Linked DNA regions of Homo sapiens: regions 1 and 3 are each linked to region 2. The links come from fine-mapping of genetic effects on gene expression. A gene starts in region 2. Each other region holds a variant in brackets. All regions are shown on one strand. Distances are from middle to middle. Region 1 has its middle 58 kb from the start of APCS. Region 2 holds the start of DUSP23 (dual specificity phosphatase 23). Region 3 overlaps ATP1A2 (ATPase Na+/K+ transporting subunit alpha 2).

Region 1 (8,184 bases), 130 kb before region 2:
TGGCCCTAAATAGTGTAATCAGGCAATGAAAATACATAGAAGCCTCCAGATGAATTAACTAAAAGGCTTCCTATAGAACAGTTCAGCAGTAATTATTCCTCTTGTCCCCAAATAATGCACAGCTGTTTAGCACTTTGGCATTAATCACAAGGACAAAATCCCCAGATCTGCTCTCCAAACAAGCAAAAGTCTACATAAAGAAGGCTCTTATTTCAAGTCTTTGGGTGAAGAGAAAAGCAGAGAACACCTGGAATAGCTTCAGATTTCCACAATAGGCAAGATATTCCTTACAGAACAACCAGCCAGACCCAGAAGTAGAACACATTGATGTTTTTTACCACCAGTATAAATATTTGCTTACTTTGTCAGTAGTGGGTCCTCAGCTGTCTTCCTCTCCCTGCCTACATAACACCATGATGAATCTTATCCCTCAGCCATAGTAAGACCTCCATTTGGAGAAGGCAACTTGGGGAAAGGCACATCAATAGCAATTCAAGCAAGAAAATCCTACCAGGCCTTTAGGTGATGAGGAAAAGTAATTTCAAACCTAGAAGACTACCTCCAACCAAAGTATCAATCAGCTGTAAAGATGAAACCAAGACTTTTGAACATACAAAGATTTAGAACATTTACTGTTCAGGTACTATTTCTATTAAAAACTTATTCTAGATTGCTTTTTGGCAAAACAAAAAATATTCAAGAAATTATAATATACTTCCTGTTTCTAGTAATGGCAGACACATTTATTTGGAAAATAGCTTAAGAGCTAGGTAAAACATTTTTAAATCTTGAAAGAAAGAAAGAAAGAAAGAGAAAGAAAGAGAGAGAAAGGAAAGGAAAGGAAAGGGAAGTAGAAAGAAGTAAGGGAGGGAGAGAGGGAAGGAAGGAAGGAAGGAAGAAAGGAAGGAAGGAAGGAAGGAAGGCAGGCAGGCAGGCAAGCTGGGCGCAGTGGCTCACGCCTGTAATCCCAGAACTTTGGGAGGCCGAAGCAGGGAAGATCAAAAGGTCAGGAGATCGAGACCATCCTGGCTAGCATGATGAAACCCTGTCTCTACTAAAAATACAAAAAAATTAGCCAGGCATGGTGGTGGATGCCTGTAGTCCCAGCTACTCAGGAGCTGAGGCAGGAGAATGGCATGAACCCAGGAGGCGGAGCTTGCAGTAAGCCAAAATCACGCCACTGTGCTCCAGCCTGGGCGACAGAACAACTCGTCTCAACAACAACAACAAAAAAAGAGAAAGAAAAGAGAGAGGGGGAGGGGAGGGGGAGGGGAAGGGGGAGGGGAGGGGGGAGGGAGGGGGAGGGGAGGGGAGCGGGGGGAGGGGAGGCGAGGGGAGGGGAGGATTCTAAAACAAATACAAGGCCAAAACTGAAGGTAAACTAGAAACCCAAGGAGATAAATTAATATGGAAGTTACTTTGGCTCTAAGGGTATTTGCCAGTCCTAGCCAATTTGAATTTTTATTTTCCCTTTCAACTTTCATTTTGGAACTAATTTAAGTTCTACATTATGTATTTTACGTTAAACTTCTACTTTAGTAGTTTTGCGTGTGTTTAGCCTTTTATGAATGAAATTATATTATATATGTTATTCTGTGCCTGGCTTATTTGGCTCAACATTATGTCTTTGAAATTCATATATTTTTTGGTAGTGTATAGCTGTAATTTATACATGTATTTCACAATATATTTATCATGTATACTGTTTGATACTTGAGTTATTCTTGGCTTGGGGGATGCTCTAAATAGATCTGCTATACACAGGCTTATACATATCCCAGTACACAAGGATGTCCTCACATCAATTCTCCAATATTACATTTTGTAACACCATTTGGCAACAATTTAATCTACAGGGGCCTTGACCATTTAATCATCCCTCAAGACCTCACACCAGTCCACTACACTGACAGTGTCATGCAGATAGGTCCTGGAAACAATGTTACAGGGCCAATAGGTTCATATGCCTGCTTCACAGTAACATACCAATACACTGAGACAGCAGGATTTACAGCAGAGAAAGAGTTTAAGTTCAGGGTGGCCAAGCAAGGAGATGAGATGAGACTTCAAATTCATCTCCCTGAGGAGTTCTTGGCTGTGCCTTTTAAGGGGATCATGGAAGGCAAGAGGCTGGAAAATTGGGGTCATAGATTGGTAGAGGTAAGGGGCATGAAATAATCAGTATGTGGAAATTGTATTCTTTGGTGAGTTAGCTCCCCAGGGGGTCCTTCAGACCAAATGATGTCAGTAGCTTCATTAATAAGCAGGACCTGAAAGAACACCTCAAAGGAAAAACAACAATTCATAATATTCAAGTTGTTAGTTATAGAGCAATTAAGAGTAACTATAATCTTGTAACAGGTCTACATGATTCTAGGACAATAGGCACCAAATAGCTATAAGGAAGCATGTCAGAGAGCAAGCTCACATAATGATTATTGATGAATGGGCTGCAAGCTTGGTTTATTTTCACTAGCCCCCTTGCCTTCTTCCCTGATTAATTTTATAAAGTTTATAGGAATGGTTTCATTAAGAAGTAGCAAGTACTTTCCATGTTTTAGTAAGGCCTACATAGTAAGTTGCACAAAAACAAAGAAGGGGGCTGGGCACCATAGCTCACGCCTGTAATATCACCACTTTGGGAGGCCAAGGCAGGCGGATCACAAGGTCAGGAGTTCGAGACCAGCCTGGCCAACGTAGTGAAACCCCATCTCTACTAAAGAAATACAAAAAAATTAGCCGGGCATGGTCATGTGCACCTATAATCCCAGCTACTCAGGAAGCTGAGGCAGGATAATCACTTGAACCCAGGAGGCAGAGGTTGCAGTGAGCCGAGATGACGCCACTGCAGTCCAATCTGGGTAACAGAGCGAGACTCCATCTCAAAAAAATAAATAAAGCAAAAGCATTCATGCAGCCCATTTACCTGTCATTTCAGAGTGGCCCATTCATAAAGAGCCTAGAGCCTGAAAATATCTGAACATAGCATCTCATACAAATTCCTCACTGAAGATGAGATGCTTAATAATCAGAGCATCAGGAGAACTATTTTGTTGTTGATCCCAACTCTTTTTCTGGCCAGCACATTCACTGCTAAATGAACTAATAAATTAAAGGCCGTGATGGAGGATATACATGGACTTACTAGCATGGACTTCCACTCACCAAATCTGACTTGGTTACTTAATGCTAAACTCCTGACATGGAGAAAGAGAAAATGGCATTATTCTCTATCATGAATAGGGTAGCAGTTCGTCCTCAAGAATAGACATATTACGGGTTTAGATTTGTTTCCCTGCTCATCAAATATCTGTCAGCACCACCTTTGGTGGTTATACTAAATTTCTTATGCATCATTGTGGCATCCTACATAATAGTGCCTCTGACAGAGGAACACATTTCACAATGAAAGAGAGGAATAATCTGATGCCCATGGAGGGAAATGGCCAAATTATTTTCTAATTATTATGGACTTATAAAAGGCTTTTGCAATGAGATGTGTGTGTGTGTGTGTGTGTGTGTGTGTGTGTGTGTGTATGTGCCTGTGTGTATTTGTGGCTGCTGTAGAAATTTTTAAAGTTTTTTAATTTGTATATAAAATACGATAAATAAGTTTTAAAATTTGATCACTATATTATTAAATATGCAAAGATTCATTTTCACACTATCTTTAATAATTTATAATATAAAAAGACATTTTTACATTTAACAAGTGACATGCTACTTAATTTGCTTTAAGTTACATGTGTGTATCTGACTATATTATAAATAAATTCTTAAAATTGATATTATGCTTGATTTAGAACCCAAATGTAGGTCTTTGTAACACATTGTTAGATACAATCACGACAAATTTTCTATCTTAATACAGAGAACGCTTAATGTGCCACATAAGAGTTTTGATTAGCTGAATGCCACTTAAAGATTTGGTAAGATCATCTTGAGATGAATTTGCTGAATTATTGTCATTAACTTATACTTCAACATCAAGCTTCATTATGTTTCTTGTATTTATCAACAGTTCATTATGAGTATAAATTAAATAGCATGCAACTATGAATAAAATAATTTAAAACTGTTTAATGGTCAAAACTATTAAACAAGAGTTTCTGAGTACATTCATCTGATTGCCATCAGCCACAGATAATGTTCATTCTATATCTGCTCAAGAATGACAAACTGTCCCATTTCCAAAAGGCAAACTAGAAAATGTTAGTTTATTAGATACTTAGCCAAATTTCGTTACTATCTTTATCCACACAAACTTCCTTGAATACATCTATGAACCCTGGGAATTTGTGAGCCACCAGATAGGGAAGGCTGGTATACTCTACCACAAAAGTGGCATCTCATGATGCCAGCTCTGAGACACAGGCTAGGCTGCTGCCTTACAGCATGCCATTAAACTCTGACCAGTCTCACAGCCAACAACCAAGGCATGGAGGTGGGAGTGACACTTTTACCTGTTTATGCTTACCTTGACTAATTCTAAAAAGGGTTTGAGGCAGCTTGAAAAAAATTCGGGGAACATTAGTTCACAAATAAGCAAATAAGGCAATAAGGATAAAGGAAAAATAAGGGTAAATAATTAAGTGTTATAGAAATTGTAACACCTAAGGGAAGAAAACTTACACTGGAAAACACAACAAAGATTTTCCATATTTGGTACAGAGACAACCAC[A/G]GGGCCACTAGAAGGAAGTTGCAGAATCTTGGCTTGTGTGATTGACTAACTCTCCACAGGAAATAGGGTTGCTATTCTGAAAAGGGAACTAAACATCTAGGGAGTCTTGGAGATCAAAGAAGAGGCTCTGACCATGTTCCCCTTTCTTTTTGCAAACACTCCTGTTTAAATTGGTGAGCCAAGCTTGGATATATTAAACTCCTACCACCAAAAACATATTAGAGCATATTAGGATCAAGTCATATATGCCTTAATGCTGCCACAACACCAAGCTGCCAGGAAAATTCTTTGTTCTATTATGCACAAATTTAAATATTAAGAGAAGACAATCCAAATTCTTAACAGGTAGTAACACTAGTTGCTCAGACCCTCAGGATTGAGGATCAACCCACCAAGAGAGAAAAATCACAATCCAATGATGTCATAAGACAAAGAGAACATAGAATTACCGAAGTTAGAAAAAAGTCAAAATTCAAGAAAGTCTTGTGACCAATAAAATAAATGAAGATTGTGGTTTCCTTTTATTTTTCCTTGCTTACTATTTGGATATAATTATCATCCCCTTTTCTTTATCTATCTAAAGAGGGATTATATTTTTTCTTCTTTTTCCTCCTCTTTCCACTGATCATTGCATATACAATGTGATTTTTGGGGGGATAACTTTATCCATAGGTGGCAGAATATTTTAGATGAATCACAAAAAACTAGAGAAATGATCATTCAAAGAGGTAGAATCGGGGAAACAGTGGCAGAGGACGTTGCCCTGAGATGCAGTAAATATGTATAACTTTGGGTTGTCGCCAAAAATGGGGCCCAGTGGTGACACCTCTCCTATCAACTGTGTTGCCTGATCACACCTGATGATATAGGGGCAGACATAGCACCCATGATGAAACAATCAAATTCTCTCTCCTATGAATCTGGAATTTTTACTGGAGAGCACAGAGACTGGCACAGAGACTGGCAGTTGAAGGCTCTGAGTCATATTCATGGCAAAGACCTAGTGAGCAGATCCACAGACTCAGTTACTAAGGATGCAAGAATCATCATGTCACCACCTTTCCTCACAGCAGTTCTTTAAGTTCTCTGAAATACTCCAATATCTTTTCACTTAATTCCTTTGTTGTTAAGGTCGTTTGTGTTTTAGATGGTCTTAAGTTAGTAAGACTGACAGATTTTATTATAATACAAATATAATAACCAGTACAAAGGTAATAAAATTCTAATCAAATTTTCAACATAATTTTTTATGAAATATAAAAAGTGCATTCCAAAACTCACCTGGAAGACCAAGCTCACAAGAATAACCAACAAAACATGAAAGAGGGAAAATACTGATTGGAGAATTGCCTTGCCAAACATCAAAATGTACTATAAAACCATAGTAATTTAAATATGTGCTATTTATATGATAATACGCCAAAGACAAAAGGAAGAGCAGTTTCAGAAGCAAATTCATTTATATGTGAATTTAAAATATTTTAGAGGTAAAATTTTAAATAAGTAAAAGAAATTCAATATGCAATTTTCTACCCGTATAAGAGAAAAAAAGTTGATCATCTTTCACAATATACATAAAATTGAGTTGAAAATTATTTAAGCTTTAAAAGAGATTTTGTAAATGGTAAAAATATTAAAATTTTAAAGACTATATTTATAATCTTTGAGTGAGTAAGGTTTGCTTACATAAAAAAATACATAAAAATTCTACTCTCTAAGAAATTGAAATTTCTACACAGCAAAAAAATAAAAAATTATAAAATTTTTAAAATGCCATAGGGTTAAAAATTAATTGACAAACTTGGAAAAATATCTGGCACACATCAAATAAAATAGACAAAAATTAATTAGTTTAATATATATAGAATTCCTAGAAATCACTGAAAAATAGATTAATAATATGGTAGGAAAATGAGCAAAGCATTTGAAAAGACTACTCATATCGAGGAAAGATACTCAGCCTTGGAAATTAGGGAGGTGCAAAATGATGTACTTTTTTATGCATCATATTGGCAAACCCTTTAAAGTTCGAAAATATCAGGTGGGAAATACTGGAAATGGGAGAAAAAGCACTTATATGCCCATTTGGTGGGAATGTCAATTTTTTACAGCCTTTATTAAACAATTAAGCAACATCTAGTAGAATGTTAAGTCATATAGCCTTTAATCTAGCAATTTCACTTCTGGGTACTTGTTATGAAAAATATGCATACATATATACAAAGAGATATGATTAACAATATTCTTGACTATAATAGCAAAAAAAAACGGTAGACATAACACAGATGTTGGATAAAATTAAAGGCATCTCAAATACCAAGGATGACAAGCTAAAAAAGCTGGAATGGAAAGTGAGGGTTGTAAAGGGCTGCTCAGAATCCCACAGTGTCCATTCCAGCTAGCGAACTCTGCAAGGTCTCTGTTGATAGCAAAATCCAGGCCTGTGAGAGAAGCTGGTAGAAGAAATATACAGGAAAATGGTAGGCCCAAAGAGCACTTGTGAGCACAGGCTGGCTGGAGCCTGATAGCACAATGTTAATTATGGGAGCAGTAACCTGGGCATGATAGAGTTTGTAGGAGAAAACAAACCTTAAAAGGAAATAAATAACCTTAAAGTTCAGATGGAAGGTCCATTAGCCAGCAAAATTGCTATGACCATGAAAACAAAATGGTTACTTCAGGCAGCAGATCAAGAATAGAGAGGAGAAAATTGAAAGAATTGCCAAGAAGCCATTAGAATAATGAAAAGGAAGCTAGATAATGAATTTGACCTCTGCATTAGTTTGCTGGGGATGCACTCAGTACTACAGATTGGGTGGCTTCACATCAGAAGTGTATTTCCTTTCAGTTCTGGAGGCTGGATGTCTGAGATCAAGGTGTGGACAGGATTTTCTTCTAAGGCCTCTCTCCTTGGCTTGTCAGTGGCCATCTTTTCCCTGTGTCTTCACCTAATTTTTTCTCTATATGTGTCTGTGTCCTAATCTCTTCTAATGAGAATACCAGTCATATTGGATTAGAGCCCAATCACATGACCTCATTTTACCTCCATTGCCTCTTTAAAGGCTCTATCTCCAAATAGTCACATTCTGAAGTACTGGGACTTAGAACTTCAGCATATGAAATTGCTGGGGATACAATTCAACCTGTAACAGCCTCCTCATAGTTAGAGGTCATCTGCCTGGAATGCATCCCATGCTCCTTCCCCACTACACTTTTCCATGCTAAAGCTACAAAATCCTACAGGACTCAACTTAGATGCGATTTCCTCAGAGATATCTTTCCCATTCCACATAACGTCAACCGAAATTGAGCTCCTCTGTTTTACTTTCTCATATCACTTACAGTCTGCAAAAACCATTATTTATTCTTTATATTAGTTGTCACAGTTTACAACACTATAGCCATGCAACTAGGGTGTCAGTTGTTGTTGTTGTTGAATCACTCACCATCTCAAAATGTAGCTCTGTGGACTTTCAGTTCACTACCACCCCAAAAGTAACAAA
Region 2 (8,184 bases):
AGAGGCTTAGCTGGGTTGTTCTGGCTCAGGGAATCCATGAGGCTATAATCAAGATGTTGGGTAAATCATCTAAAGTCTTCATGGGCTGGAGAATTCACTGCAACAGTAGTGAGCCACTGACTTGATGGTGGGTAGGAGGCTTCAGTTCCTCACCACATGGATCTCTCCACACAGCTGCTTGAGAGTTCTCACAACATGGCAGCTGGCTTCTTCCCAAAGCTTCCCATGGCAGGCCTTCTTTCCAAGACAGAACAAGGCAAAAATTAAGTATTTCATGATGCAGCCTAGGAAGTCACACACCACCAGTTACACAATATCTTACTGGTTGCAAAAATCAGCCCTATCAATGTGGAAAAGCACTACACAGGCATGAAATGGCTCATTGGGTACCATCTTGGAAGCTAGCTGCCATACCATTTCTTCTTAGGTTCAGTTTCCAGATTATCAGATCTTAGGTGTGAAGTGTGTTTAGACATTAAAAAATCAGAACACTGAGGACACTGAGAATTCTGACTGTAGTCCAAGGGCCACAGGAACCTGAACCCAAGCAATCCTTTGCATTGGTGGAACACAGGGACCTACCTGGAGGAAGAAATTCTCTGACTCCAATTGCACCCCTAATTGCCACTAGCATCAAGCCAAACAGGGGACTGGGGCCTCAATATGAACAAGAACTAAGTCAAAACATTCTTATCAGCTGGAAAAAGGGAAGCTGAGATGCCCTAAAAAATGTTCTGTTAAGCCTTATTTTTTACTTTTAAGTTCAGGGGTACATGTGAAGAATGTGCAGGTTTGTTACATACGTAAAAGTGTGCCATGGTGGTTTGCTGCACAGATCATCCCATCACCTAGGTTTTAAGCCCAGCATCCATTAGCTATTCTTCCTGATGTTCTCCCTCCCCAAGTCCCCACCCCAGACAGGCCCCAGCATTTGTTGTTCCCCATCCCCATGTGTCCATGTGTTCTCATCATTCAGCTCCCACTTGTAAGTAAGAATATGCAGTGTTTGGTTTTCTGTTCCTGTGTTAGTTTGCTGAGAATAATGGCTTCCAGTTCCATCCATGTCCCTGCAAGGGAATGATCTCATTGCTTTTTATGGCTGTATCATATTCCATGGTGTATATGTACCACATTTTCTTTATCACTGATGGACATTTAGGTTGATTCCATGTCTTTGCTATTGCGAATGTGCTGCAATAAGCATATGGTGCATGTATCTTTATAAAAGAATGACTTGTATTCCTTTGGGTATATACCCAGTAATGGGATTGCTGGGTCTGCTGAGCTTTTCATTGGACAGTAGACAAAATGGAAAGAAAAATCCCTCTCTTCATAAGACATTTCTGGTAGTTCCAATTCAAGCTTATCTTTCCCCCACTGACTTCTTTTGCACTTGTTTTTACTGCACAATTAGCTTTTTAATATGTATTATCTGATTGTCTTTGATGAGCAATTTAGTACTTTATTATATGTCCTGAGAATAATTACATCAGAGTCTAAATCCCCCGCAAGGATGTTGTAAATTCCTTGAAGTCAGGGAAATTTCTTAAGCTTACTACTCAGCCCACCATCAGTGTCAATAGATTGTTCTCCAGGAACACGGCCCCTCCAAAGCACTCAAATACACAAGCCATCACACACATGCACACTACAAGAGCAGTGCTCTATAAAGAACAAGCTTTATTTGTCCCATTTCACAAAAATAGTAATTAGACATAGCCAAGATCATACTGACACAGCCATTCTTTATTTAAAAGCACAGTCAAGTAAAAAATACACTTCAAAGAGATACTACCCAATACTCAACACAGTCCTCAAACTTGTGCATTTAAAAAGAATTACAAATACACATTGCCACATGGTCCGACAGACTCACATTCACTCCTAGAAATGTACCTTCACGGTCTTGCCAATGCATTCTTCTTATTAATTTCCCATTCATTTGTTTACTTAACATTTTGAGCCCTGTGGCTCAGGCTCCATATTAGATGTGTGGAATTCAAAAACGGAACAACGCATTCTTGCCTCCTCTGCAAACAAGTATCCTCAATCCAATGACATTACTATACTGAGAAGACATATTTATACAAGGTGAGATGGGAGAAAAAAAAAAAGCCTAAATCTTCCTGAGGGTCAGGTAACTCTGTACAGAGGAGAGAATAAAAGAAGGTCAGTATCATGTATGTGGGCAGACAAGAAGGTGGTTAGTTGCAGAAGTCCTGTTAATTGCAGAAGTCTGAGCCAGGAAACCATCAGAGAGGGTTTTTCCTTACAGTTTGAGGCCCCTTGGGCCCAAGACAAAACATCATATGGCACCCTTGACATATGGCACCCTTGACAAAGCTTAAGGCAGGGACCCTGGGCCCTTTCCACTCTGGGTCTGCTGGAAGGGAAGGGCAGAGCTTCCTAAAAAGGGAGCCAACTGGCCTCTCCACATGGAGGCCCTAATGGTTTGATGGATGCACTGCTAGCCCTGCAGAAACCCACAAGAGGGAGAGAATCATTGGTAGGGGACTCAGGGAAGAGGAAGATCTCGGTCTCCCAAAAAAATTTTCTCTTTCTGGAGAATATGGGCTTCGAGCTGGATATCAAGGAGGCAAAGAAGGAGCACATAGGAGGGTAGGGAGTGAAGTGGAAACTTCCCTGGTGAGTAGGGGAAGCAAAGAAAGGAGAACAAGGCAAAGGGACTAAGAAAAGATTAACTTACAAGAACAAATGCTAGAGTCTTGTCTCCAGAGGTAGTGCAACCAGAAATCCTGAAGAGCAGTTGAATTGAGAAGAGAAGTGGGAGGTCAGGGGGTTGGGGGAAGAGGTGACTGGTGGCTGAGAGGCCATGGCTGGGAAAGAGAGAAAGGAATAAACTGGGGAGGGCTGGTAACCTTGATAGGAATTTATGTAGGAAATGAGAGTGCAAACAGGAAGGGCTTAATGAGGGCTGTGATTGTCTGGAAGGAGAAAAAGGGGAGATTTGGCACCTCCTGGAACCTGGGGAAAGTAATTGTCTGGGTAAATGGTAAGTGTATTTCCCACAGGGTCAGAGCAGGCTTTGATCTTTAGGAGAAGACAAATTGCTTTCCATCTTGCTGAAGCCAAAGGCTTAAATGGTCAGACGTGTGTCATAGGTGGGTGCAAAGGGAAGGAAATATAATACATCCTCATGGCCAAGTGCCCTGGGCTTGGATCACTGTGTCCTTGGCCAAGTTAACCAACTTCTTTAAGCTTCCAATGATTCATGTACAAAAAAAGATACAAAAATACCTTTCACATGTGGTTCTTCCAGAAAGCGCTTGGCACAGGGCCTGGTACATAAACAAATTCAATAAGGGTTAACTATTTTCATAATTACAGTTAGTCTGCATCGCTAGAAGCACATTATTCAAATGAGGATATGGACTGGTCAGATGACAGTGGAAACGGTGTTCAGATCTAGGGGCCCCCACCTAGTAAGAACAACACTAATCAACTCTAGCCTGCCCAGGGGACAGTGACCCAGAGAACTAGGAAACCTTGAAAAATGAAGAAATATGAAATACTAATAAAAATTAAGAAAACCCACAAGCGTTTAACCCAGATAATATTTGGGGACATGAGGGGGTTATGTGAAGAGAAAACAATGTTCCATTTAACTTTAGGAAATGGCGATATTATTAAAGATTTTGGAGGCATTAGTCATCATCCTTTGGTCAAGTTTATTAACCTCTCCAGTGCCTCTGTTTTTTCATCCATAAAATGGGATTCACTAGATCACCTATCTTATAAGATTACTGTGGCAATTAAATGAGTCAGTATGTGCTAAGTGCTTAGAAGACTATCTAGCACATAATAAATGCTCAATAAGTCCTGAGGAGCAACTGGATTGACAGGAGAAGTTGGTGCTGGTTATTATTATTACTATAATTATTACCCTGGGTAAGTTTTTAATAGTTCCAGCAATGAAAAAATGAGAATAGCCTCCTTGCAGCAGTAATTCCCTCTTACTGGAACAGTTCAAAAAGTCGCTGATAACGACCAGTCAATCATTAGAGAGGAGACTCCTCGTCCTGGGAGAAAGCCGATTTGTCATCTCTTAAACCCCAGGGCATCCAGCGTGAAGGAGGTAGAACTAGGCCGGCCCGCGAGGAGGCAGGGGCAGGCGCCAGTGACGCAATGACTGCAACATGCCGCCAGGGTGCAGCAGAGCCCGACCCCGGGTTGTTCCATCCGCAGCAAACAATTCCTAACTCGCTCCAGGTCTTCCTTCTTAGCTGAGTGGGTTGAACCCCGTGGAAGTAACCCCCCGCCCATTATGATGATCCAGCCAATCACCGCGTGATCTGCTCGGACGGGGCGGGATCGCGGCGCTTCCCTCGGTCGCTCAGAGACTGGGTTCCGCGTTCCAGCCCCGCCCCAGGTTCTGGGCCAATCCCCGCGGCTGGGCAGAGCGACCCGAGGGCGGCGCCCTGCAGACCACGTGGCCCGGGAGGCGCCGAGGCCAGGTAGGTGGTGAGTTACTTGGCTCGGAGCGGGCGAGGGGACGCGTGGGCGGAGCGGGGCTGGCCAGCCTCGGCCCCCATGACCCGCTGTCCTGTGCCCTTTCCCAGCGATGGGCGTGCAGCCCCCCAACTTCTCCTGGGTGCTTCCGGGCCGGCTGGCGGGACTGGCGCTGCCGCGGCTCCCCGCCCACTACCAGTTCCTGTTGGACCTGGGCGTGCGGCACCTGGTGTCCCTGACGGAGCGCGGGCCCCCTCACAGCGACAGCTGCCCCGGCCTCACCCTGCACCGCCTGCGCATCCCCGACTTCTGCCCGCCGGCCCCCGACCAGATCGACCGCTTCGTGCAGATCGTGGACGAGGCCAACGCACGGGGAGAGGTCAGCGGGCGGGGTCAGCGCAGGGAGGGAGGGGCCTGGAAGGTCAGCGGGGGACACGGGCGGAGCTGGGGAGACCGGGCCTGGGATAACTTAACTGGGCTCGGGGAGGCAGACAGTAGGGCCGGGAGACTGGGAAGCCAGTGCGGGGGAGGGAAGCGCTAAACGGAAGGAACTAAAGAGAGGGCGAAGCAGTGCGAACTGGGCTTGAGGAGAGGCAGTGAAAACCAGCTAATACTGTGAGTTGTGAAGGAGAAGGGTGTGGACAGACACCTGGGAGAGGTGGGGGTTGAAGTCAGGTGGAGGCTGTTTACCATTTTCTAGAGTAAAGCTGTCCAAATATAATGGAACCTAAGTGGCTCCATGTAATGTTAATTTTTCTAGCAACGGCATTCTTAAAAAGCAGGGAAGCAGATAAAATTAACTTTGGTGATCTTAATGAGATATTTTCATTCTTTTTTCTACTACCTCTTCATACCCTGTTGCGTTTTTCACACTACATCTCAGTTTGGACTAGCCACATTTCGAGTACAGTAGCCACAGTAGCCGTGGCTACTGTCTTCTGTATTGAACACCACAGGTGGAGGGCTGTGTAGAGGTGGACAGCTCTTGAACCAGCCAGTGCAGAGGCCTCCTAGCCACCTAGTGCAGGGACAGCCCTCCCTGACTTTGCTGCAGAGCCCTGGACCTGGCACAGAAGAAGGAGCTGTGGGGAGAACCAAGTGAGGGGCAGGAAACAGTTGTGGGTGGGGGAGTTGAGTGGCACCCATCGAGCCCCCTCTTCGTAGGCTGTGGGAGTGCACTGTGCTCTGGGCTTTGGCCGCACTGGCACCATGCTGGCCTGTTACCTGGTGAAGGAGCGGGGCTTGGCTGCAGGAGATGCCATTGCTGAAATCCGACGACTACGACCCGGCTCCATCGAGACCTATGAGCAGGAGAAAGCAGTCTTCCAGTTCTACCAGCGAACGAAATAAGGGGCCTTAGTACCCTTCTACCAGGCCCTCACTCCCCTTCCCCATGTTGTCGATGGGGCCAGAGATGAAGGGAAGTGGACTAAAGTATTAAACCCTCTAGCTCCCATTGGCTGAAGACACTGAAGTAGCCCACCCCTGCAGGCAGGTCCTGATTGAAGGGGAGGCTTGTACTGCTTTGTTGAATAAATGAGTTTTACGAACCAGGGCACGTTGCATGGTACTTTATAAAGCATTCCCACACATTAACTTACTTCAGCCTCACTGTAGCCCTGTGATACAGGAAAGACAGATGGGCCATCTCTGTTCTTTGGATGAGGTGGGCAAAGCTCAGAGAGGCCCATCTTCAACACTTCTAGAAAGTGGAAGGATGGGCCAGAACAGCAACACACGTCTTCAATCCCTTGAAGATGCTGAAATGCTATGTATCTGTTCCCTGACAATATTTGATGTGTTTTCTGGGGGAGCTAGTCAATGAAAAGGATTCAGGTCCAGAATAGCCTGGCCTCCTGGCATTCCCAGGTCTCTGATGCTCACAGGCCAGGAGGCCCCTCCGTGTAGGCCCACCTGCTGCACACGTGTCACCCTTGTTTATCTGGGGGTAGAGACAGCCTGGATGTCACACTCACAGATAACCACCATCTCCACCTCCACAGGGCTGGTCACCTCTTACCAACCTCAGGTGCTGCTCAGCTCATCTGGGCTCTCTGGCTCATTCTGCTGCCCCACAACCTCAGGCCAAAGGACCTGAGAACAGAGCCAATCTAGGCAGTTATGCAGAGCAGATATTTAACAATTAAATGAAGAGTTCCAGGGCTCTAAATCTTGGCCATGTTTCTCAGATGTTATCTCCAGTTATCCCCTATTGGACCCCATTCTGCCCCCTTGTTGGGCCCTGTTTTGCCAGCACCACTACACTTTTGACTTATGAGAAATGGGAAGAATGGCATATATCCGCCCAATGGACTCTTTACTGTAGGTCTGCCTGTGGTCTTTTCTGCAATAGCAGGCTGAATAAGATAGAAATTCACCATAAAATATGTGAGTTCCTGTACGTACCTGTATGAGTTCTGTTAGATCTGGAGGCCGCACAGTGGAATGAGACATAATTCCTGCTCTCAGGAGCTCAGCCTGCTGGAGAAGATGGGCACAGATAGAGTCCACCACAGACAATGGATGCTATTGTAGACATGCATTCCAGTTCCAGTGGAGACATAGAAGAGTGGGGAGTCAAGGGTTCCCCTGTAGATCTCATCTTTTGTATCATAGACCAGAGACAGGCCTAGCCAACTGGTCCTCCTTTCTGCTGCTTTCCCCCTTCCACCACTAACCACCCAGTTCATCCCTGTCCAACTCAACCTTAAACAAGAGATATCAGCTGAAGTCTTGCCAATCTAAGGCCATAAGATGCCCTCTCCCCAGTTTAACTTTATTTGTCAAATCTGAGTGATCAGTTCCTTCAAGCTTAGTCTCCACCTAGCCTACTCAAGTGAGGATGTCTCCCAAAGAGAAGAAACCCACACATTCCAGGCATTCCAGCTGCAACAGAGGAATGAGAATGCAAATAGAGGATGCACTGAAACCCTTACCCTCCTGTCACCAAAAGTTCTGTCTACCCTGCTCTCCCCCATCCACCCCTCCCCCAATAGTATGGCCCCATTCTGTTTCTGATGCAAACCAGAACATCTTCCAAAGGGGTGTGTGTGTATTTTCATGTGAAGGGAGTAGGGCATGAAGGGTGTGAATGGGCCACTTCCTGAACCTCTCCCCTCCAGTCGGAGGGCTTACCAGGATGGAGAGAGAGAGAGAGAGGTGTGAGGCATGAAGCTTCCCCAAGTTCGTGTCTCCACTCTGATCCTCACCTGCTAGGCCATACAACCAATCCTTGCCCTTTCTGCCTCTGTTCCTGTGTCACTCCATCCTCCCCACATCTCTGCACTGTGGAAGAGGAATATGCCCTTCCCTTCCTCCCAAGGCTCCTGCAAGGGAAACAAAATTTTGCTAACCCCATTAAAGCCCTGTGTACTGCCTCCATCCCCATAATTTAAGCAAGTCTCCTCTGCCTCAAGAGTTCCTTAGGGAAATACACGTATAATTAAGTGCTTAAGGAAACTGCTTTTTAAATAATAAGAGTTGGCTTGAAATGAAAAACTCTGCCCTTATCCTTCCATCTACCTGGTGGGTTAGCCTGTGGCTTCCTTTGGGCTCGTTTCCACTCCCAGTTGTTTTTGTCTTCTCACCAAGCCCTCTTATGTCTATGGCTACCAATAAGGGGTAACAGACGAGCCATGTCCCTTCCCTTTCTACGCTGAGATAGATGATCTGTGCCACCATCTAAAAAGAACATTCGCCTCAAACCAGGATATC
Region 3 (8,184 bases), 360 kb after region 2:
AGCGGCAGCCACGAAACTCCCAGACGGACAAGCTGGTGAATGAGAGGCTCATCAGCATGGCCTACGGACAGATCGGTGCGCCAAGCCCCGGGCCTCGGGAGGGAACCCCAACAGGGTTCTTTTCCCAGCTTTCAGAGGAATGAGCCCCAAGCAAAATTCCAGGACAGAGGCCAGCTACCCAAGGGTCAGGGACCTCCATCTCTGGCCCTGAGGGGCTGTGCCCCTTCTGCTTCCTGCTCTGACCCTGCCCCTGCCTTTGGCCCTCTACCCACAGGGATGATCCAGGCACTGGGTGGCTTCTTCACCTACTTTGTGATCCTGGCAGAGAACGGTTTCCTGCCATCACGGCTACTGGGAATCCGCCTCGACTGGGATGACCGGACCATGAATGATCTGGAGGACAGCTATGGACAGGAGTGGGTGAGTGGTGCTGTGTAAACACAGCGCACATGTGTGAAGGTACGGGAAGCTGAATGCCTGGCAGGAGTGGCCAGTGGTGGCCAACTGGGACTGGGGCTAGGGGTGGATCAGGAGAAACCATGCTACCTTCTGGTCCTACCCTTTCCTCCGACACTCTCATCTGTCTCTGCCCACCCTCCCTCCAGACCTATGAGCAGCGGAAGGTGGTGGAGTTCACGTGCCACACGGCATTCTTTGCCAGCATCGTGGTGGTGCAGTGGGCTGACCTCATCATCTGCAAGACCCGCCGCAACTCAGTCTTCCAGCAGGGCATGAAGTGAGTGCCCACCCCCATGGCACCTACCCACCCAGGCTCTGGGCACACTCACCAACCCACACAGGCCAAGCTTCCAACTCAGCCCTGGACCAGAGCTGTAAGGAGGGCATCAGATTTTAATCTTCCATCTGTATATCCATAGATAGGTTTCATATAGAAGAGAGAAGCCATGCTTCAGGCTCCTAATTTTGCATTTTGTTATTGTCTCTCTCCACCTTTCTTCTCTCCTTCTCTCCCTCCCTTCTTTCCCCCATCTCCTACTTGAGTGCCACCTGCTCCTATCCTTTGCCCAGCCCTAAATCCAGTGTCTTCTGTGCCCACCCCTCCCCTGGCCTTCCGCAGGCAGTCTAGTTTATAGCACTTGCACTGTGGTTCTGGAGGCCACGTGCTGCCGAGGGTCGGGTTCAGCGCTTCTTGCAGTGTGAGTTCCAGCGTGCCAGGCACTGTGCTAAGTGCCTAACACATTGTTTAGCCCCACGATAGCTCTATGAGGTGGGTATTACTGTTTACATTTCATGGATAAGAGGCCCCAAACAGGTTAAATGATGTGCCCAAGGTCACCAAGATGGTAAGGGTTCACCAGATCTGTCTCTAAAACCCAGCCCTGGCTACTACCCAACATTTCTGTGCTCACACCATCTGGCACTGTTTGGAACTCAGTAATGACTGTGATTCTATTATGGGTGGTGGTTGAGCGCTGAAGGTTTCATGCTGGTTCCTTTTATTTTCTCCTACCATAAACAATGGCCACAATTCCTCACATGAGGTTGTTACAGTTTCTTAGTTTGGGGCTGGGGAGGGTGGGGAGAAGATGCCAAAGTGAAGTTAATAACACTTAAGATCCAAGGGAGAATAAAGTGAAAAGCCTGTTAGATAAATAAAGGTAACATGAAGGAAGGAGATTCCAGTAAGCTAAAAATACTAATGGAAAAAAAATGCAATTTGAAGAGAACAAGGAGCAGAGAGTCTAAGAAATTGGGTATAATTCTGGGGCCTGGGACTTGCTATGCACTGCAGGGATGACACACGAAGGTGGGAACATGGCCATAGTGGCTGCATCCAGCCCATCTTAGAGGCAAATGGGAAAAATGGCAAATGAAAATCAGGCTGGGTACAGAGGAAGAGTACTAATACCACCACAGGCCTCACCTTAGGTCCCTGGGCCACTGGGGATCCTCAGAGATGCTATTTGCCTTATTTTGAAAAGCTTTATGAAAATAAAGCACTCACCTATGCGAAGGCAACCAGGCTTACTAATGTGTCATTCTTAGGCAAAAGCCAAGAGCGCATATCATGACGTGGTGATCGGATGCTGATTCACAGTTCTGTCTGGAAGCCATGGATAGTTCTAATTAATTTTAAATGGGGAAATGTATTCAATACTTATTCACAAATGTAGCTTGAGAGACAAACAATTAAATGTGGCCTTTACAGAAGAAAATAAGGAGGTCCTTAGTGAGTGAAAATTTGGAAATCACTGGCTTGAACCAAAAAGAGGTACCTTGTGTAAGAATACAAAAGATGGAGTAGCCGGGGACAGTGGTTCACACCTGTAATCCCAGCACTTTGGGAGGCTGAGACAGGAGAATCAATTGAGCCCAAGAGTTTGGTACTAGCCTGGGCACATGGTGAAACTCTATCTCTACAAAAAATATAAAAATTAGCAGGGCGTGGTGGCACACACCTGTAATTCCAGCTACTGGAGAGGCTGAGGCAAGAGGGTCACTTGAGCCCAAGAGGTGGAGGTTACAGTGAGCTGTGATCGTCCAGCCTGGGCAACAGAGTGAGACTCTGTCTCAGAAAAAAAAAGTGGAGTAATAATGTGACTGAACATTTTCCAGGTCTGTCACTGAACATTTCAGTGACAGAACATTGCAGAGCTTTTCACGTGTTATCTCCCTTAATTTTCCCAGCAACCCTATGATAAAAAGGTAAAATCTCCATTTGATAGAGAAGGAACGTGAGGCTCAGAGAAATTCAACATTGCCTGCAACCCAAAGCTAGTCAATGGCAGAACTGGGAATAGACACCACCTGTCTGACTGCAGAAACTGCCCTGAGAACCTCCTTATTCTATCCTGCTTTTCAATTCTGATAAAGTGAACATATATTAACCACTTATTATGCAGTGATCCCCTTTACATTCTCTGAATTAAATATCTATAATGAAACCACCACCAGGAACTGTGGGAGATGCTGAGACGGTAGAAGACATACATGGGCCCTGCACTGAAGGAGCTTTCAAGCATCTTGCTGGGGAGACACACTTTCATGGGCCCTGTGCCTGGAGCAATAACAAGATCATGAGACAGGCCCCATGTTGACCACCGTGTCTCCAGTACAGAACACGTCACCCAACACCTAGAAACAATTATTTAATGAATGAATATACGTGCAATAGACAACATTCGGACGTAAACTCAGTAAGCAGAAAAACAAATAACATCTTCCTTTGGTTACATAAAGCATGAGAAGAGGCTGTTGGAAGAAGACATGCGACTATGTCGTTTAGAATTCTCTCTCCTCTTTCCCTTGCACCCCAGGGGTATCCCAGGATCTCTGCCTCCATGATCCCCCTTCACCTGCCACCTCCTTTCTTTGCCTTTCAGGAACAAGATCCTGATTTTTGGGCTCCTGGAGGAGACGGCGTTGGCTGCCTTTCTCTCTTACTGCCCAGGCATGGGTGTAGCCCTCCGCATGTACCCGCTCAAGTGAGTGTCTCTTTCGGGCGGCCTGAGTAGTCATACGGGGGGCCTTCAGCCCCCTCCAGGATCCAAGTTCTGATCGCTTTGAATGCTCCTTTATGTGACAGCCACCAAGCCAACCTCTGATGCTGCTGACACTCTCCTCCATTGCTTTCAGAGTCACCTGGTGGTTCTGCGCCTTCCCCTACAGCCTCCTCATCTTCATCTATGATGAGGTCCGAAAGCTCATCCTGCGGCGGTATCCTGGTGGTAAGCCCCTCCACATTCCCCCCAGCAAAGTGCAAGCCCCACCACCAGCTCCTCCCTCCAGGACCACACGCAGACTCCACTCCCACTACTGGTTCCTGCTTCTGTTCCTCAACACCCTCAGATCCTGGGGTCCCAGGTCCCAGGAGCCCTGACTCTTTCGAACCTGTTGTCTCTGCCCTCTTCCCATCAGATTCTAAACCCCGCCTAACTCACAGTTGGTCTCCGAGGCCCTCCACCTTCCACCTGAAACCACAGAACATCAGAATTAGAAGGGCCTTTCCAGGTCACCTAGTCCCACGTCCATATTTTACAGATAGAGGAGGCTCAGAGGTGAATCTGTTCAGGGTCGTAAAGCAAAGAATAGCAGGACTGGTACTAGAACCCAGGCCTCCTGATCCCCACTCATCAACCGACAAGTTATTGTTTTTCCTACAAGCGTTTTTTAATCACTTAGTAGAGGTTAAAATATGATGGCTTACAAACCAAATACTGTCCAGGAATACTGTTTGGTTTGACCTGTGCCATATTTTGTGTGTGTGGGGGGAGGAGGGTGGATTAATTGGTCCGATATAGAAAATTTAGGGTCTTTCACATAAAATCTGAATTCGACTTCTCCTGAAGATCAGAAGAGCTGTTAATCCCATGTCCACATCTCTGCACAGCAAGAATGGACAGCTGCTCCCTTAGACTCTCGTTCGTCACCTGAAGAGGCCCTGTGGGCGTTTGCATTTTCACCCTCGACCTATTCTGCCCCAGCCTCCAATGTGCTAAATACAAGTCTCCCCTAAAGGCAGGTTCACCCTCCCTTCCTTTAACCTATGGCCCCAGCTCACTGGACCTCCTTCTCCTCCCTTTCACCTTCTTTTTTTTTTTTTTTTTTTTTTTTTTTTTGAGACGGAGTCTCGCTCTGTC[G/A]CCCAACCAGGAGTGCAGTGCAGTGGCACGATCTCGGCTCACTGCAAGCTCCGCCTCCTGGGTTCAAGCAATTCTCTTGCCTCAGCCTCCAGAGTAGCTGGGATTGCAGGCGCATGCCACTATGCCCGACTAATTTTTTGTATTTTTAGTACAGACAGGGTTTCACTGGGTTAGCCAGGAGTCTTGATCTCCGCCTGCCTCAGCCTCCCAGTATGCTGGGATTACAGGCATGAGCCACTGCACCCAGCCTCCTTCCACCTTCCTAAGCCACTTCCCCCAGTGCCCTTCACCAGGCTTCTCCTTCCACCTGGCTTCAGCGACCCAAGCCCCTAGGAAATTGATCTCTTGCCTCCTTTTAAGCTCATGCTGCAATCTCCACTCCCAATCTCTCTAACAGGCTGGGTGGAGAAGGAGACATACTACTGACCCCATTGGAAGAAGAACCAGGCATGGAAAGATGGGGAGCTCTGGAGGTGTTGTGGGGATGGTGATGGAGAGGGATGGAAATAACGGGTGGCATTGGGTGGCAACATTTGGGGAGAGATAATGAGGCAACTCAGCAGGCTAAGTTGCGGGGTATATAAATTGGGGTGATGACCCCATAGACCTAACTGTGAACAATCAGATTAGACACTATGTGTTAGAGTCCCCCCGACCAGATCCTTTTCCATCCCACTCCACTATGTTGTCTATTTTTTCTGAGGAATTAAGGGTTACCCCACCCTGCCCACTCCCATCCCTTCAACCCCACTTCCTACTGTAATAGATCAGCATCCAAAAGCAGGAACCCATCTAAACCAGAAGGAAGCCCTCTCAGATCACCCCAGCCTCACTCCATTTCCCACTTCCACCCCCGTTAGCTTCCTGCAGGACTCTATCCCTGGCTTCCCCTTCAGACCTTGCAATCACAAAAGGTTCTTCTGGTGAGTGCAAGAGCCTGAGACTGGAAAAGGTGGACTTGTCTCCCAGTCGAGGCTGGTAAGGGACCTTCAGGGAGAGCTGGGCAGACAGGTGGGAGATGGAGGTAGGGCTGGCTGGAGGAAGGAAACAACAAAGGAAGTGAGGTAGTGCCAATGACAGGACATTTGACATGAGTCTCCAGATAGATGTCGTGGACTCCAGCTCTACGTCCCACATTTTAGAATACCCCACCAGCAGAACAAACTCAGATCTCATCAGGGTAGCAGCAGAGGCAGGACCAGAAGGCAATCAAGAGCTTCCAGAAATGCCACACTTGTGTGCCACAGAGTTCCCCGCTGACCCTTGGTTAGGGGTCCTCTTAGTCCACAAGGTCCGGATGTCACTCATGTACTTAATAACACTTCACCTTCTGTAATACTAAGTCCTCAGAGCTCCATGCTGTTCTGAAAGGGATGGCCACAAGTTCTTTCCCAGCCTCTTCCATTCCCTTTCTTTTCATGCCCATCCCGATGAACCTGCATCATTCCCCGACACTGCCAAGCCAACCCTGGAAAAGGAGTTCGCTGGCCATTGGCTAGAATCAGGGTGGAGAAGTTCCCTGAACCTTCCTGTCTCCCAGGGACATGTATGCTTCCAGGGACAAGCTTAGGTCATGAACATGGTCAGAACCTTTGGACAAGAGGAAAAATACTAAGAGATTTGCTTTTTCTGGGTGCGGTGGCTCATGCCTGTAATCCCAGCACTTTGGGAGGCCGAGGCAGGTGGATCATGAGGTCAGGAGTTCGAGGCGAGCCTGGCCAACATGGTGAAACCCTGTCTCTACTAAAAGTACAAAAAATTAGCCAGTCATGGTGGCACACGCCTGTAATCTCAGCTACTCAGGAGGCTGAGGCAGGAGAATTGCTTGAACCTGTGAGGAAGAGGTTGCAGTGAGCTGAGATCGTGCCATTACACTCCAGCCTGGGCGAAAGGGTGAGACTCCATCTCAAAAAAAAAAAAAATGATTTGCTTTTGACGTCTTAGGTGGCAGGGCTGTTCCCTCCAGGCAAATGCCCTTCAAACCGACGATCATTGTGCCCACTTACCCTGGGCTGGAGAGTTGGTTTCAGGTTCCTACAGGAGATAGCTTTCTTTCCCTTACTCCCTATCTAACACTTTTGCTCTGCAGGCAGCCTTGCCCATTCTCTAAGCCTGGCTTAGAAGGCACTGGGAATGTCCTGTAGAGAGAGACCTAGATAGGTCATGCAAGTGAGAAAGACATCTGAGGAAAATGGAAGACCTAAGGCAGACAGGAAGGAAGCACAAAAGACAAGCATTGGGTCAGACCCATAAACCACCTCCCAAAGGCTGTCATTTCATTGCACTGGAATTTTGCTTTATCAGAAGCAAGGAAGTAAGGGAGTCATTGCCTTGGGCCTGGGAATCTAAGTGGGAGACAATATTAATTTGGATCCGATTAATTGGAGATTACTAACTGTGGACAAAAGTTTATCTTTGCACAATCAATAAAAATGGCATTTTTTTAGTAAATTAAGAGCATAAACAATATTGCTAGAGGTGGCATGTTTAGTCTACCAAAAACAATACTTTTCAGGCACTTTAGAAATATCCTTTTAGAAGCAGCGAGTGCATGGGCTAATTATCATCAATCTTTATGTATTTGTTAAAGAAACATCTACAGGATCTTTATTGGTGACCTTTTGTAAGACATTAGTTTGAGGTACTACCTATGTACTTGAAAATAATAAAGTGGCATTTCTTTATGAAAAAAAAAGAAATCTCTTCCATAATTCAGATTTCTACACTTTATACTTGCCTCCCTCCTAAATCGTGATATTGAAATATGTGCTGTGGCAGAACTCGGCTTGTAGGGAAAGCAACAAAGAGATAGCAAGTGTCAGGGATGGGAGGGAAATGGTCTGGGAGCAGATGATGTCCGTGGAGAAAGCAAGAGGGGAAGAAGTTAGGTTGCAAAATAACCTACAAGAAACTATAGCAGGAGCCTCCTTCCTCATGCTGATCCCACCCTAAGAGCCACAAGAGTTTGTCCAGGACAGGGAGGGGCCTGTGAGTCTATTAAGAACAAGATCCTCAGGGGCACTTCTGCTTTTTCTGTTCCAGACCAAAATCAGGCCATTCTCTATCTGATGGGATGGGGGAAGGAGATAGTGGGTTGAGGAGCCCAAGAGTCAACACCAATTCACAATCTGTACTTCATGCAGAGCTTTGTCCTGGGTGCTCTCTTTAAGGGGTGGGGGTAAAGTGGATGCAATCCTTGAAATTCACCTGAGTAGTAGACATCAGAAACCATCATGGACAGAATGTAATGAGCAGTAGGGGGGACGCTTGTGTGCTGGAGATGGAGGGGTGGGTGGGTGGGTGTGCATTGCTCCAGGGGGGCCCTGGGAATGGGAGAGAGAAAGACACCAACTCTTACAACCTATGCCAGGATTTCAGAATAACGGTCAGAAGTCAATTCTTGCCCAAGCCATATTGCAGCCCCTTTATTATGACTCTTAACAGTGTCATTAATGACAGTTATAGTTAGTAGTGATTATAAGAGCCTTAATCACAGCTCATTTTGTGCCATAACTATGCCAAAATTTTATTTGTATAGTCTCCGTTCATCCCACCACAGGGCCTTTATTCTTGATGGTCCCTC

Evidence for each region. PIP is the estimated chance that this variant, and not a neighbour inherited with it, causes the effect.
Region 1: its variant is the best candidate, but not a certain one, in a credible set for the expression of DUSP23 in whole blood (TOPMed, PIP 0.84).
Region 3: its variant is the best candidate, but not a certain one, in a credible set for the expression of DUSP23 in testis (GTEx, PIP 0.82).

Annotation. Positions count from the first base shown.
Region 1 is chr1:159,642,158-159,650,341 of GRCh38, forward strand. No RefSeq gene overlaps it. Among named protein-coding and RNA genes, the nearest start is that of APCS, 58 kb to the left of the region's middle. The variant A/G (reference allele first, on the strand shown) is at 4,682.
Region 2 is chr1:159,776,519-159,784,702 of GRCh38, forward strand. DUSP23 (dual specificity phosphatase 23) reads left to right here and starts at 4,444. Exons shown (of 2, transcript NM_001319658.2): 1 at 4,444-4,849; 2 at 5,635-6,025. The coding sequence starts at 4,583. The coding sequence ends at 5,820. It overlaps LOC101928264 (a long non-coding RNA gene), which reads right to left and starts at 2,863. Exons shown (of 3, transcript XR_922193.3): 1 at 2,708-2,863; 2 at 1,897-2,143; 3 at 1-237. RefSeq lists a silencer at 4,379-4,768 and an enhancer at 4,760-5,336.
Region 3 is chr1:160,136,296-160,144,479 of GRCh38, forward strand. It overlaps ATP1A2 (ATPase Na+/K+ transporting subunit alpha 2), which reads left to right. Exons shown (of 23, transcript NM_000702.4): 18 at 1-75; 19 at 275-420; 20 at 606-736; 21 at 3,345-3,446; 22 at 3,598-3,689; 23 at 4,999-7,296. The coding sequence ends at 5,027. Among named protein-coding and RNA genes, the nearest start is that of ATP1A4, 11 kb to the right of the region's middle. The variant G/A (reference allele first, on the strand shown) is at 4,602.